Linked DNA regions of Homo sapiens. The protein of the gene in region 2 interacts with the protein of the main gene of each other region in a pairwise test. Each region holds a gene or a part of one and is shown on either strand. Other genes may lie near its edges.

Evidence for each region. Proteins that work in one complex are often made in the same cells at the same time.
Region 1: the proteins of MARF1 (region 2) and PEX14 interact in binary tests that used the Homo sapiens proteins (3 or more experiments, as listed by UniProt).

The regions. Positions count from the first base shown.
Region 1 is NC_000001.11:10,617,912-10,624,956, reverse strand, and holds part of PEX14 (peroxisomal membrane protein PEX14), read right to left. Parts: intron 6,626-7,045; coding exon 6,540-6,625; intron 1,939-6,539; coding exon 1,836-1,938; intron 618-1,835; coding exon 520-617; intron 1-519. UniProt on the Homo sapiens protein: Component of the PEX13-PEX14 docking complex, a translocon channel that specifically mediates the import of peroxisomal cargo proteins bound to PEX5 receptor.
Region 2 is NC_000016.10:15,633,128-15,640,172, forward strand, and holds part of MARF1 (meiosis regulator and mRNA stability factor 1), read right to left. Parts: intron 6,165-7,045; 5' UTR 6,107-6,164; coding exon 5,963-6,106; intron 3,216-5,962; coding exon 2,529-3,215; exon of another isoform or gene 2,379-2,528; intron 1,805-2,378; coding exon 1,630-1,804; intron 1,133-1,629; exon of another isoform or gene 883-1,132; intron 717-882; coding exon 490-716; intron 1-489.

The sequences.
Region 1 (7,045 bases), on a different chromosome or scaffold from region 2:
AGTTGGTTCTGGCTCCCTAGGATTGCCAGAACCCATGGAACCTGAGTCTAGAGAACCTGCCCGCTGCACTGCGGTGTGGATGGGGCTGGTGCTGGTGAACTGACTGCGACTCGCTTCTCCCCTGTCTGTTCCAGAACCCCTCCTGGCCATGCTGTGACCTGCAACCTAACTTATAGGTAGAGACCGTCCCATGTCTACACAGAAAGCCTCCAGAGCTGCGGGGATGTGGCTGCCATGAGATCTCCACAGGCAGAGGGTAGCTTTTCCTTCCTCCTGTTGGGAGGTGACATAGAGAGAGAAAGGATGGCCTCGACAGTTAAACGTCACACTGACTGCCCAGCAACAGCCTCCTGTCTCTACAAGGAGAGAAAGGGCAGCATCGGCCACGGCTGTGTAACCACTGTGAGACTGGGGCAAAGTCCAGCTCCCGAAGGTGGCAAGCCCGGCCCAAGGGACAAGAGTGAAGGGCACATGGGACAGACCTGGGCCTGGAGGGCCCTGTGCAGCAGAGACAGGTACCTTGGCAGCGGCCAGCTCGTGGGCAAGCTCCTGGATCTTCTGCTGCTGCTGAATCAGCAGCTCCTGGACGGAGGCGAGGGTCGTCTGTAACTGAGTCACTGCGAGGAGAAAGCAGTCACGGCGCTGGCAAATTCACAGGCACAGACGTTCCCCTCGCTCGGTCCGCACACCTCGGAGCTGCCCGTGTTCCCGCTCCATCTAATTTATCTGCAGACACCCCCAGCCCCCGCAATCCATCTAATTTATCTGCACTCTGGGTGATCTGCCTGCACTGTATCTAACCTCTAGTATTTCTACTTTATCTTTCCATTGTGTAGTTGTCCATGGTCAACAGTATATCCGTCCAGAACCTCTCCCCTCTAATTAGAGCTGGCTATGATTTGCTGAGCTCTCCCGGCTTCTCTGGCGCCTGCGTCCTTCATCTCCTGGGCCTCAGTGTCCTTGTGAAACTCCTGGGGTCTCCAATGCTGGGAGAGATGCATCTCAGGTCCCCGCCACATTCACATCCAGGAGTGGCTCAAGCCGCACGTCCTGTTTCCCACTGCTCCTTCCCACCCTCCCCACCTGACCCAAGCTGCCTGCTCAACTCCCTGGTGTCCCGTGACCCCTCAGGACCTTGTTGCCACCAATGTCAGCCTCGCAGGAGCAAACGGCAGCAGGATGGACGTGTCAGAGGGTTTCTGTGAGCTTCACAAACGTGCTCCAGAGGGACACAGACTCCTGCCTGGGACAGGTGGCTCTCTCATTGGCCTTGCTCTGGTTTTTAGATTCAGAGCTGCCGTCTAGTAAACAAGTTTATAAAGAAGAGAAGCCACCTCTGGCGCGACAGGTCCCAGCTAATCTGGGCCATCGCTGGGGCACTGGGTAATGAACGCGAGCCCTGTTGAGTCGATAACAGGGGAGGTGGCTGGGGTCCCGGGAGCCACAGTAATTACAGACTCTCTTGACCCCACAGTCGAGTCTTAGAGGGAAGGGGGAAAATCACTGAAAACCCCCCTGAAAACCTCATAGAAGCAGAAATTAAAAATGAACTTTACAGCCCTTAGAAAGGCTGTCATTTTATTCCCCTTATTAATATTCTGAGGTTGGGAGCCTTTCCGTAAAAACATAATTAATTGAGGCCGCGCCGACAGTAAACAAGCAATTTCAAATTAAACCGAAATGACGGCGGCTTCATTTGCAAATGTGAACAGATTCTCAGAGCAGATAAATGAAGTCACCACATAGAGTGGAGACAGAGGGAGAGGGGAGGGGCAGAGAAGGGGCTGCTTGGAGAAGGCTGTGAGGGGTGACTTGATGGAGTCATTAATCTTTACCTGTCTGGGCCACGCTGCCACTCAGCTCAGAGAGACCGGCCTCCATCCTCTCCAGCTGCTTTCTGTCCTCTCGGCCGCCCAGGATGAGGGGGAGCAGGTATTTCTGCAAGAAGCGGGACAGGGTGAGGAATGCATACGGACCCGGGGTTATCCTCCAACAATCTCTCAAATTCTGCCGCCCAACTTTCTCCCTGTCATCCCTGGGTTTTGGAAACCCTAAGCAAACACCATAAATGAACAAGATATTTGAAAAAGTTATGAGACTGCGATTACAACCACGTAAAAATTCTGCCTGAATAAGGACAAGGACCAGGAGGGAACGTGGACAGGGAGAGTCAGCTGGATCTGCTGTGATGGGAACTTTTTGGTTCCTTTATTTACTTTTCTTAGTGATGCTACACTATTTCTGTAACACAAAGTTATAAACTCTACTGTCAAAGTTGTAAGATATAAATGTGGATGGACACACAAGCAACAGATAATGCTGGAGCCTCCAGGAGGCGAGGGAGGCGGGGCAGCTCTTCCCGGCATGTTCTCCTGAATTGTGAACATTTTGAACCTGTGAGTGAATCACCTATTCAGAAACAAACGAGTAAATTAATAAACAAAACATCGCTGGAGAAACTAAAGGAAAATCAACAACACATTTCTGGGACCCTTGGTTCTCTCGCCAGGGGATAACATGTGCGCTCTGAGGCTGCTGGAAGAGGTCACCTCAGTCTTTTTCTAAATGAAGCCTGAATCCTCAGAACAAACTTCCTTCACGTAAGAGTCAAAAGAAGTCGAGTTCCCCAGAAGGAAACACAAGGCAGAAGGGAGAGGAAGGCGCAGGACCAGAAGAAACTGGCTCTGGGGAAAAAGAAAGTGAATGCGGCAGGGCCACCCCTCACAGGGGCCTAGAACCAGGGATGCCCGAAGGAGCCGTTCAGGAAGGGGGCAGGCAGGGCAGGGCTGGCAACTGGTGCTCTTGGTTGCCTTGGAGGTGAGGGTGTGGAGGGGTGGAGGTGGGTGGTGGGGCCTGCAGGGACAGCTGCGTGTAGGAACATGTGCACTGACGTCCAGCCACTCGGGACATGGAGACAAAGCCCCCCAGGTGAGGAGTGAGACCCGCTGCCCCCTTCAGTGGGCACTGCCAGAGGCAGTGCAGTGCAAGCCTGGCAGGAGCTGCCCGGGGATAACTTTGGTTCTTAATCTATCTGGGCCCAGATAGGAAAGAGGACGGAAACTTCTCCATTACGGTTTCTGTACCAGGGAAGGAAAAGAAGCTCTCTCACAAGGGGTTTGTGGGAACTCATTTCCAGAGTGACTCCTAAGTGAAGATCATTCTTCAGCAGCACATGTATAGACGCATTTTCTATTTTGCAAAGTGCTTTTCAACCACAGTGTGAGCTATTACCCACAACTGAGCCAAAACTCATCAAAGGTAGCCTTACACTTCAGGATGAAATGTCCTCAGCAAGAAAGGTAAAGAATTCTTGGCCGGGCGCGGTGGCTCACGCTTGTAATCCCAGCACTTTGGGAGGCTGAGGTGGGCAGATCATGAGGTCAGGCGTTCGAGACCAGCCTGGCCAACACAGTGAAACTCCGTCTCTACTAAAAATATAAAGATTAGCTGAGTGTGGTGGCGCATGCCTGTAATCCCAGCTCCTCGGGAGGCTGTGGCTGGAGAATCGCTTGAACCCGGGAGGCAGAGGCTGCAGTGAGCAGAGATCATGCCACTGCACTCCAGCCCGGGTAACAGAGTTAGACTGTGTCTCAAAAAAAAAAAAAAAAAAAAAAGAATTCATATATGTGTGTGTAACCAACTAAACACCCCATTTCTGAGATCAGAAGTCCTAAGGGCAGGAGCAGACACGCTGCCCTAGCCAAAGTCTTCACGTGCTTATAAAGCCAGTCGAGGGCTTTTTACCATTTCTTTTTTTTTTTTTTTTTAATTTCGAGAAACTGAGCAGATGCTTTAGAAATTCTCTTGTTACCATTGTGACTGATATTGCAATGTTTCTTTTCTTTTTAAAACAGAGCGGAGAGCCCAGAGCTTCGTAGAAACTACAAGTGGCAGCTCCGTGTGAGTGCCCACGCTAAGGCGGGCTGCCGAGCTGCCCTCCCGCTCCCGTCAGGCCACAGGCCCTCCATGGGTGGCCATGTGACAGTGCCTACTGCTCATTACAGCCAGGGCATTCATCTGAGGACTCTGGCGTTCGTGTCACATTCTTCTTGGTGCTTGTATACAGTCAGTGATTTGAAGGGGGCACCAGTTCAGAGGGAGAAGAACCGGGTCCCAAGAGGTGTTTTTGTTCTGTTCTGTTTATTTATGTATTTATTTGAGACAAAGTCTCGCTCTTTCACCCACGCTGGAGTGCAGTGGCACAATCTCGGCTCACTGCAGGCTCACTGCAACCTATGCCTCCCAGGCTCAAGTGATTCTCCTGCCTCAGCCTCCCAAGTAGCTGGGATTACAGGTGCACGCCATGACACCCAGCTAATTTTTGTATTATCAGTAGAGACAGGGTTTCACCTTGTTGGCCAGGCTGGTCTCAAACTCCTGACCTCAAGTGATCCGCCCACCTCAGCCTCCCAAAGTCCTGGGATTACAGGCATGAGCCACTGCGCCTGGCTTATTTTGTTTTTTAAATTGAGACAGGGTCTCCTTCTGTTGCCGAGGCTGGAGTGCAGTAGTGTGATCTCAGTTCACTGCAACCTCCACCTCCCGAGCCCAAGTGATCCTCCCACCACCCTCAGCCTCCCGAGTATAGCTGGGACTACAGGCTCACACCACCATGCCTAGCTTATTTATTTTATTTTATTTTATTTTATTTTATTTTATTTTATTGTTTGGTAGAGACACAGTTTCACCATGTTGGCCAGGCTAATATCAAACTTCTGGGCTCAAGCAATCTGCCTGCCCTGGCCTCCCAAAGTACTGGGATTAGAGGTGTGAGCCACGGCACCTGGGCCAACCCAGGATGTTTTGTTTCTCAATTTCTTTTTCTTTTTCTTTTTCTTTTTTGAGAAGGAGTCTTGCTCTGTCACCCAGGCTAGAGTGCAGTGGCATGATCTTGGCTTACTGCAAGCTCCGCCTCCCAGGTTCACCCCATTCTCCTGCCTCAGCCTCCCCAGTAGCTGGGACTGCAGGTGCCCGCCGCCATGCTGGGCTAATTTTTTGTATTTTTAGTAGAGTCGGGGTTTCACCGTGTTAGCCAGGATGGTCTCGATCTACTGACCTCGTGATCAAGTCAGGATCCTCAGCCTCAGCCTCCCAAAGTGCTGGGATTACAGGCGTGAGCCACCGCGCCCAGCCCTTGTTTCTCAATTTCTAACATGGAAATGTCCAGCTCCAGGAATACATGCTACACTTAAAAAATTATATTCTGCTACAACTGTCATTAGCTTTTGTATTACATCAAAAATGAAGAATCTGGAATACCATGGCTGACCATGTTTCATGTGCTAAGAGTGACCATGGCGAGTCTGAGTGCTCATTCAGGTTGTTTAAAAAAGAAAATCACCAGCCGGGCACGGTGGCTCAAGCCTGTAATCCTGGCACTTTGGGAGGCCGAGGTGGGCGGATCACCTGAGGTCAGGAGTTCGAGACCGGCCTGGCCAACAGTGAAACCCCATCTCTACTAAAAGTACAAAAATTAGCCAGGCATGCACCAGCACGCCTATAATCCCAGCTACTCAGGAAGCTGAGACAGGAGAATTGCTTGAACTCAGGAGGCGGAGCTTGCAGTGAGCCGAGATCATGCCACTGCACTCCGGCCTAGGTGACAGAGCGAGACTCCATCTCAAAAAAAAAAAAAAAAAAATCACCAATCAGGGGTGGAGGAGCTGGCAGCCTCGAAAGAAAAGAGGCTTCTCTACAGGGTCCCAAGATCTGGACTGGGCACCTACCCTGGCCTGCATTTTCTAGACTCTAGACTCATTTGCTTCACGTCCAAGTTGGGCCTTCACAAGGGAGTCAATGTTCACGTCATGCCTGCAGTTCTGTTGCAAGCAATGAACCTGGGATCCTGAAAGTTGACTTGAGAAGCCTGGGAAATCCTAGATTTCTATAGATGGCAGCACAACAGACAGAGCAAAAAGAACAGCTCCCATACATCTGATGACACTGAGGTTCTCACCGCCGCTCTTAAATGCTGTGGCAGAACAATGGTGTATAAAGCACTTCCATGTGCCGGGCATGGCTCTGAGTCCTCTACAAGGGAGACTGACTCTTCCGGACTTCACGACAACCTTGTGAAGTGGGGACTGTTATTCCCATTTTACAGACCAGAGCCTGTGATCACCAAGCTCCTGAGGGGCAGAGCCAGGGCTCAGCAAAGCAGCTGGCCCAGCGTCCATGCTCTTCGCCATTATGTTATTCTGTGTCTCAAAACTGCTCGCACGGCTTCCCCGTGCGGGCACTACTGTAAGTGCCTGACATGGGCTGGCAAGGGACAGACCTCACGACGCCCCTGCAAGTGGAGATCTGGGTGGTATATGCTGAGCACTGGAGAAAAGGTGGGCAGAGCCTGCCAAGCCCCACAGCAGGGCAGGGTCTGCCTGGATCCAGCTGTGAACCCCGACCTCTACCACAGCCTCTCACTGCCAACACACTCCAGGGCAGAGCACGGCAGTGCCTCCATGCAGGGGAACCAGTGAAAGGGTGCTGAATGCCACAGGGTGGCAGGGGCACAGCACCTGCAGCCGCTGGGGGTGACTCACCTTGTAGAGCTGGTGAAAGCCAAATGCAATGCCTGCCATGATGATGGCCAGGGCGCCGTAATCTCGCCATCGGGAGCCTGCGGGACCTACAGGCGGGAAGAGGAGGAGGGTTAGAAGACGCACATGGCGTCCTTCTTCGGGTGGGGGCTGGCACAGGTGCCTCAGTGGCACAGTCTCCTCGCCTCCAACAATGGGCAAGTGGAACACTCCAACGCAGGAAGGCAGCACATGATCATCACAACAGCAGCCGGCTCCACCCCTCCTGTTCCCACTGCCTCAACTGGGACACAAGGGATGCCAGTCACCCAACCCTGACTGCAGGCTGTGGGTGGAGGTATCTAGCAGTGAGCTGAGACCTGAGTTGGCAGTCAGGTGGCAGAGGTGATCTGAAGACCAACAGCATGGTCTCTACCTCAGGAACAAAAGATCCAGAGAGGATAACAGGAGTATGTTTAGGGGAGCATAAATATACCCATATATGCCCTACTATAGCTGGCGATAAGCTG
Region 2 (7,045 bases):
TATCATTAAACAAATTTTCAATCAGAATTCTAAAAAAAAAAAAAACACCACACACACACACACACACACACACACACACGTACAGCACTTTTAGAGGCCAAGGCAAGAGGACTGCTTGATCCCAGGAGTTTGAGACAAGCCTCCACCACCTAACCCTGGATCCTGAAAGCCATCCAGGGGTGTCCAAGGGACAGAATACAGTCATGGGTTCTTAGTTTCTGTTTCTGGTTGGAACATAGGGAGACCTCGTCTCTACAAAAAATAAAAAATGAGCCGAGCATGATGGCGTGCATCTGTGATCCTGGCTAGTTGGGAGGCTGAGGTGGGAGGATCACTGGGGTCCCAGGGTTCGAGGCTGCAGGGAGCCATGAATGCGTCACTGCACTCCAGCCTGGGTGACACTTAGACTCTGTCTCAAAACAAACAAACAAACAAATATCTGCTTATTCCTCTACTGTAGATTAAAATTATTAAATTTTTTTTTTTTACCTGGCAATTATTCAGCTCTTGAATAACTTCCTTGTTTTCTTTACTGATGTCACATACACAGATGAATTCTGCTTCTCTGTGGCCTTTAAAAAACTTCTCACGGATTCTTTGCACAACAGCAGTTGCTGACCGGCCAGAGGGAACGGAGCAGTTTTCAATATCCCAAAAAACTCCAATGGGGGGTAAGTTTTCTAGCACCTGTCCAGCTACTGCAACTTCTGGTGACCCTTAAGAAATGTTAACATTTTCAATTACTTGTAGTGGAAAATAAATGGCAAGTTACAATAAGATAATAAACTACCTATCATTCTCAGTGGTAGAAAAACTAAATTATTAATGAATGCCAAGTTTTAAGGCTACCAACCTCACTGGTTGACCTAATAAGCAATCAAGCTGTCAAAAAGTATCACTCTAAGAGATTATTTCTGTTTTTCAGGAGAAGACAAATCTAAAAGTCAAGTAACTTTAAGCCCACAATAAATCCACCTCCAAGCATGAGCCACTCTGACATTAAGCAGTGATGCTTCTCTGAACACAAGCACACTAACTGACCGGATACTGCAGCTCCAGGACCCGACTTTCAAGCTTAGCCCACACTTATCTACCTACTTGGTAGTAACCAACACTGAGGAGCTGACAAAGGGTGAAGCTGTTACTGTCGTTGATTTTGAGTTAACGCTGCATTAACATCTGATTTAATATTTTAAAAATGTTTTCAAAACGTCGCATTAACTACTTTTTAGGGAAATTATTTTAACTGAGAACTCTTTGGTTTTCAAATACTGTTTTTAATCAGCCATTAGTAAATTGTTCTAAGCACTTCTAGGGAGTATACCATCAACAAGTGTGATTTCCAACCTAAGGTGACACCAAGTCTTTTCCAGCACTTTTATTTCTCCTGATATACTACCAATTTTTCTATACACAGCTTCTGTGTATAGCCTCGGCCCAACATAAAGGGCAAATGACTTCCTGGTCCATAATAATAAAAAGATTTCTACCAAGATATGGAATTGGAGACTCACATACACAGTAGCTTTAGAACCATAAGGAATCCTTCAAAGGTGATTAAATGCAATGTTAGTATGAGATATTGAAAGCTATTTAAATATGCACATTTTATGCCATACTGTCATTTACCAAATTTTGAAGCAGCTTTGCCTAGACTGGTCGCCAATAACAACGTGGTCTCCTTCCCTGTTCCTTTGGTTCCACAGCCATTACACAGAGGGACAGCAAGAGGTGCAGGTTGAGTATTTGGAGGTGGTATATTTGGCCAGACTTTAGCCGCATCGATTATGCTATTTCTTGCTGGCTGTTTTAAATTTTTTTTAAAAAGGAGGAGGTGTCAGATACATCATTTCAGAAGCTGGAGTTATATACAACAACTGAAAATACACTCTAAGTGTTTTACCTTTCCACTTGCTAGCCTCTAATAAAAAGGACTTTCAAATAATCTTTCCAAGAACCATTAGCTATCAGTTCATAAATTCATTTCCAGAAGTGACTTGACATGATCAAGAAAGATATTCACGTGGTCAGATCTTTACATTCTGGGGCATGAGTCTGCTGCAACGAAGACCTCACACATATTTTACATAAAGGGTAGCAAAGTCTCACTTGAACACCAATGTGACTGAGGCCAAGCTTCAGGTTTCCCACATTATTGCAAAAAGACAACATGCAGTTATCTACCTTACATGAATGGGCCCATGTGTAAGCTGAATGTAAGTTATAAAAAATCCATCGTGCTTTAGCCTTTAAACATAGAACACGAAGGCTTTGCCAACCTCTTGTTTGCAACAAGAGGCTCTAAAAGTATAAACTACAAAAATAATGACTCTCTACTTTTTTGAATGATCTCCCATCTTACCCTTTGTTTCTTTCAGAACCAGCAAAAATTATGCTGATGGGGAGATTCCCCTATACCATGGGAGAATCTTCAACCCCATGTATAATACTTTTCAAGATAAATCCACTTCAAAAGTCATTCCTCAATCCTCAGCTGCACCCAACTTAAGAAATAAAAAGATACGAACCTTGTTTAGACAGTCTTCGCAGTAAAGTGAGCCCTTTAAACAAACCGGAGGTACCACATTAAGGTGCAAAGAGTTGGTGCACAAGTGAGGCGTTAGCTCCGACTGTGAAATGTGCTCTTCCAAATGCCCTGGAGCCCCGCTTGTGAAATCAGAACAGGGGAAATAGCCAGCGGAGGTGCAGCCCTGCAGACTCGGAAACTGATGCAGCTTGTGCACATTACCATGACATGACTGGAAGTGGAGTTTTCCACAACAGGGCAGGTGTTTGCAGGAAGACAGGTTACTCTCTAGACACATGCTGGGAAAGTCACTTGCAATGCCTGCCAAATTGTTCCTAGCTGAGGCATTCTGGAGTGAAGATGCAGACTGGAAAGCAAACCCTGACCCTACCTGACACGTGATTGTCCTGGTGCTTTGCGAGTCTAACAGTGCGCCCGGGTGAATCAAGCTACTGGTACCTCCGCTACCGCCACCACCACCACCAAAACGCATTGGCGAAGTGGAGGGTTCATTAGGGCAATGAGCACAGCAGCTTACTTTGGGGACAGAAGAAAGCTGTATTTTAGGCTGCTGAAGAGAACGAATATCAGGAAGTGGGACTGCTGGAAAAAGCTTAGAGCCAGCATGAAGGGGTGATGGTACATCCTTTAGTTCCACAGCAACTTTCTTGTTCTCCATGTACTCTTTCTGAGAAAAGAAAATCAGAACATAAATTAATTTTATGAGGTCCGTGGTTTTTTGGTTACTCATATCTTACTGCATGCACAAACAGAAATAGTGTTCAATTCTGTTACATCACTAAATCATAACTGAACAAAATGGAATCACAGCTAGTTAAAACCAGGAACATTCTTCAGAGAGGTCTGCAGGACATGAACACTGGAACACACAACTAAAATTAAGACTACATTCTTCCTGAATTGAAACAGACTGGGGTGGGAGGGCCTGTTTACATCTTTAGCAGCCACCATGCCTCAGTAACTTCCTTTTGGTAATTTCCCCTTGCCTCACAGAATCTTCTGAAGACAAAATAGGTGGTATGAAAACAACCCCTCACAAACAGCATTCAATAAAGATGGCTAACACACACAGTGGTTTGAGGACAATACTTAATAGTTCTGTGGTCAGGCCATAAGGGGTTTTAGTAAGATCCCCCAAAGGAAAAGAGTAAAGTTTCAAACACAGATGAGATCAGCCATCTACCCAGATGGCCCATCCGTGTTGCTGATGACATTTCATAAACCCTAAGATATCATGACCTAAAGCCATAATGACAATTATATTGCAGCCAGTGAAAAGATTTAGAGAATTAGAAAACTATCCAAGAAAAAGATCCAAGACAAATAGTTTGCCACATGACTCCAACACAGACACAGGAAGCCAGTATATTACAAAGGTTCTGAGCAGAGCATCAGTGGCAGAGACCTGGGTTAGAATCTGATACTCAATAGTTGTATGACCTTGGGTAAGTTACTTAACCTACACTTTGGTTTCCTCATCCATAAACTGGGAATACAATATACCTCCTAGAGTTGCTAGGAGGATAAAATAAGATAGAGCACATAGACCACCTGGCACAGTACCTAGCCACTGAAAGGGGACTGAATTCATCAGCCTTCACAGGCTGACTGCAAGAGACATTAAGATGAAGAGGGGGCCCTGCTACAGTGACTGAGACGTGCTCACCGTTCACAGCATATGAGGGTCCATCTGACGCCTAAAATTCCACTCCCTTTGCTGTGATTCTACACTCACCTGGGAGCATAGGCTCATCTGGAAGAAATGTGAATTTTCAGCTAAACTTTCCCTAAAAGGGAGATAACAGCAACGGGCTGACCAGCCAATGAACTGCCCTCTTGGTAATTATAGTTCAGACTGAAATTAACACACTGGTATTCTGATTTATACAGATCAGGCTCATACAGGCAGGCTTACTATGAGTTGATCCCCTGAACCTACTCCATTCTGCATGCCACTGACAAAATTGAGTTTCAAGATCTGTAAAGTTGACCGTGTAATTCTGAATTGTGTGACTCCATGAGGACCAGATCTACCACCCCATCCCAGGAAGCCTTGCTTTTGATGCCAACCCTCACTGTCAACTGTCTCTAAAATAAAACACTCCTAAAATGACCCAAATTACTTGATGTCTTGCAACAAAGACAACTATATAGTGAAAACCTAGAGAAAATAGAGAATTAAACTGGTTTTTAAAAAGTTATTAATACCCGGCCAGGCGCGGTGGCTCACGCCTGTAATCCTAGCACTTGGGAGGCCGAGGCGGGTGGATCACCTAAGGTCAGAAGTTCAAGACCAGCCTGGCCAACACGGTGAAACCCCATCTCTACTAAAATACAAAAATTAGCCAGGCATAATGGCGAGTGCCTGTAAACCCAGCTACTAGGGAGGCTGAGACGGGAGAATCCCTTGAACTAGGGACAGTGGTTGCAGTGAACCCGGATCGTGCCACTGCACTCCAGCCTAGGGGGCTGAGCCGAGACTCTGTCTCAAAAAATAAAATCAAATAAAAGTTGTTAATACCCTTATATAAAATTATATTACAGTCTCACTTGAATCCCACATACAATAGAAAATAAGAAATAGAAAGGTGGTAACATGAGTGCATGAAGTCAGGAAATGTCAAAATTGGCTGGACGCGGTGGCTCACGCCTGTAATCCCAGCACTTTGGGAGGCTGAGGCGGGAGGATCACTTGAGGTCAGGAGGTCAAGACCAGCCTGGCCAACATGGCGAAACCTCGTCTCCACTAAAAATACAAAAATTAGCCAGGCATGGCAGCACAGGCCTGTAATCCCAGCTACTGAGGAGGCTGAGGCAGGAGAACTGCTTAAACCTGGGAGGCAGAGGTTGCAATGAGCCGAGATCGCACCACTGCACTCCAGCCTGGGCCACAGAGCAAGACTGCACCTCAAAAAAAAAAAAGAAAATGTCAAAATCACAATGAGTAAGCAAGAAGTTAGAGACATAAATGTATACTGAGAAGTAAATATTCAAGAGAAATCTCGAAATAAAAAACAGGCAGTGGATAAGCTCTTCCCAACCCTTCCTAGATTATAGACTCAAAACTCAAGAGGGCTACAGTAAAATACAACATATTTTGTATTTTCCTCTGATTTTACTCCACAATGTGGATTTTTAATCTTTGTTACCTGTGACTTTAATGAGGAAGAAATCTTTCCCAAATTTTAACATTAAATATTCAAGGCATCTACTGTTACTCAAAGTGAAATAGAAGAGTTAAAAAATTGTGCTGTGCTCTCACATTATAATGTGGTATAAGAGGCAATACAGGCAAGATCTACAGAAAAATGTGGCACAGACTCTAGGATGAGAGACTGTATCCCAGACCAAATGGACCTCTCTCATCTATTTGGATGAGGAATCTGCTACATCCTTAGTCTTGCATATAGTTACCGTTTGGGGACTATGTGGCAGCGTCTGCTCAGGACGAGAAAAGCAATTAGAGAATTTCCAAAGCCATGGCTTAGCATCATTATCTTGTTGAAGCCATCCACGTGTTCTACTGCAGGAGTTCTCAGTTCCGTTTCCTTCCATCATACAGCCATGCAAAGTGATTCAACATCCTTTCATCTTTCTTTTCTTTCATTCTTCCACCCTGTTAAGAATGAGTAAGATTTCAGTGTTATTTCCTTGCATAAGTACAAATTTTACAACATACTAAAATGTGAAACCACAGCTATATTTACAGTCCTATGGCTCTCAACAATTCAAATCTTTGTTTCAAGAGGAAGTCTCGCTCTGTCGCCCAGGCTGGCATGCAGTGGTACGATCTCAGCTCACTGCAACCTCCGTCTCCCGGGTTCAAGCGATTTTTCTGCCTCAGCCTCCAGAGTAGCTGGGACTACAGGAGCCTGTCACTATGCCTGGCTAATTTTTATATTTTTAGTAGAGATGGGGTTTCACCAAGTTGGCCAGGCTGGTCTTGAACTCCTGACCTCAAGTGATCCACCCTCCTCGGCCTCCCAAAGTGCTGGGATTACAGGCATTAGCCACTGCGCCCGGCCAACAATTCAAATCTTAACAAACAAAATAATAATAATAAAATAAAGAAAGAAAAAAACACAAAATATCAGAGCATATTACGGGTTAATAAAATTTGGTAAACTTGGTTGACTGTTTATGCTTAAAATCTAACTGCAACAACCTGATTTCTTAAAAAATCTATAATCTGCCATTCTTCATGTTTCATAGCTCTTCAAATAAAAAATGAACTCTCCATGAGTCTTGTTTCCTTTCCACATGTAACCATGTTTGAGAGAGGTAGCCATATCTTGGAAACTTGCATATTCCAGAGTGAGACTTCACCTCCTCACTTGGCTGGAATCAATTTTTTCTACAGTTTTTCTGAATTCTTTTCGGCTCTCTCTCCCTAAAGATGCTGCTCAGGAAAGTCAAAAGTTAACAGAAGAGAGCATCTAATCTGAGTAAAAGAGCCACCACCACATCCTCATTGACAACTATATGTAAGATTTTAAA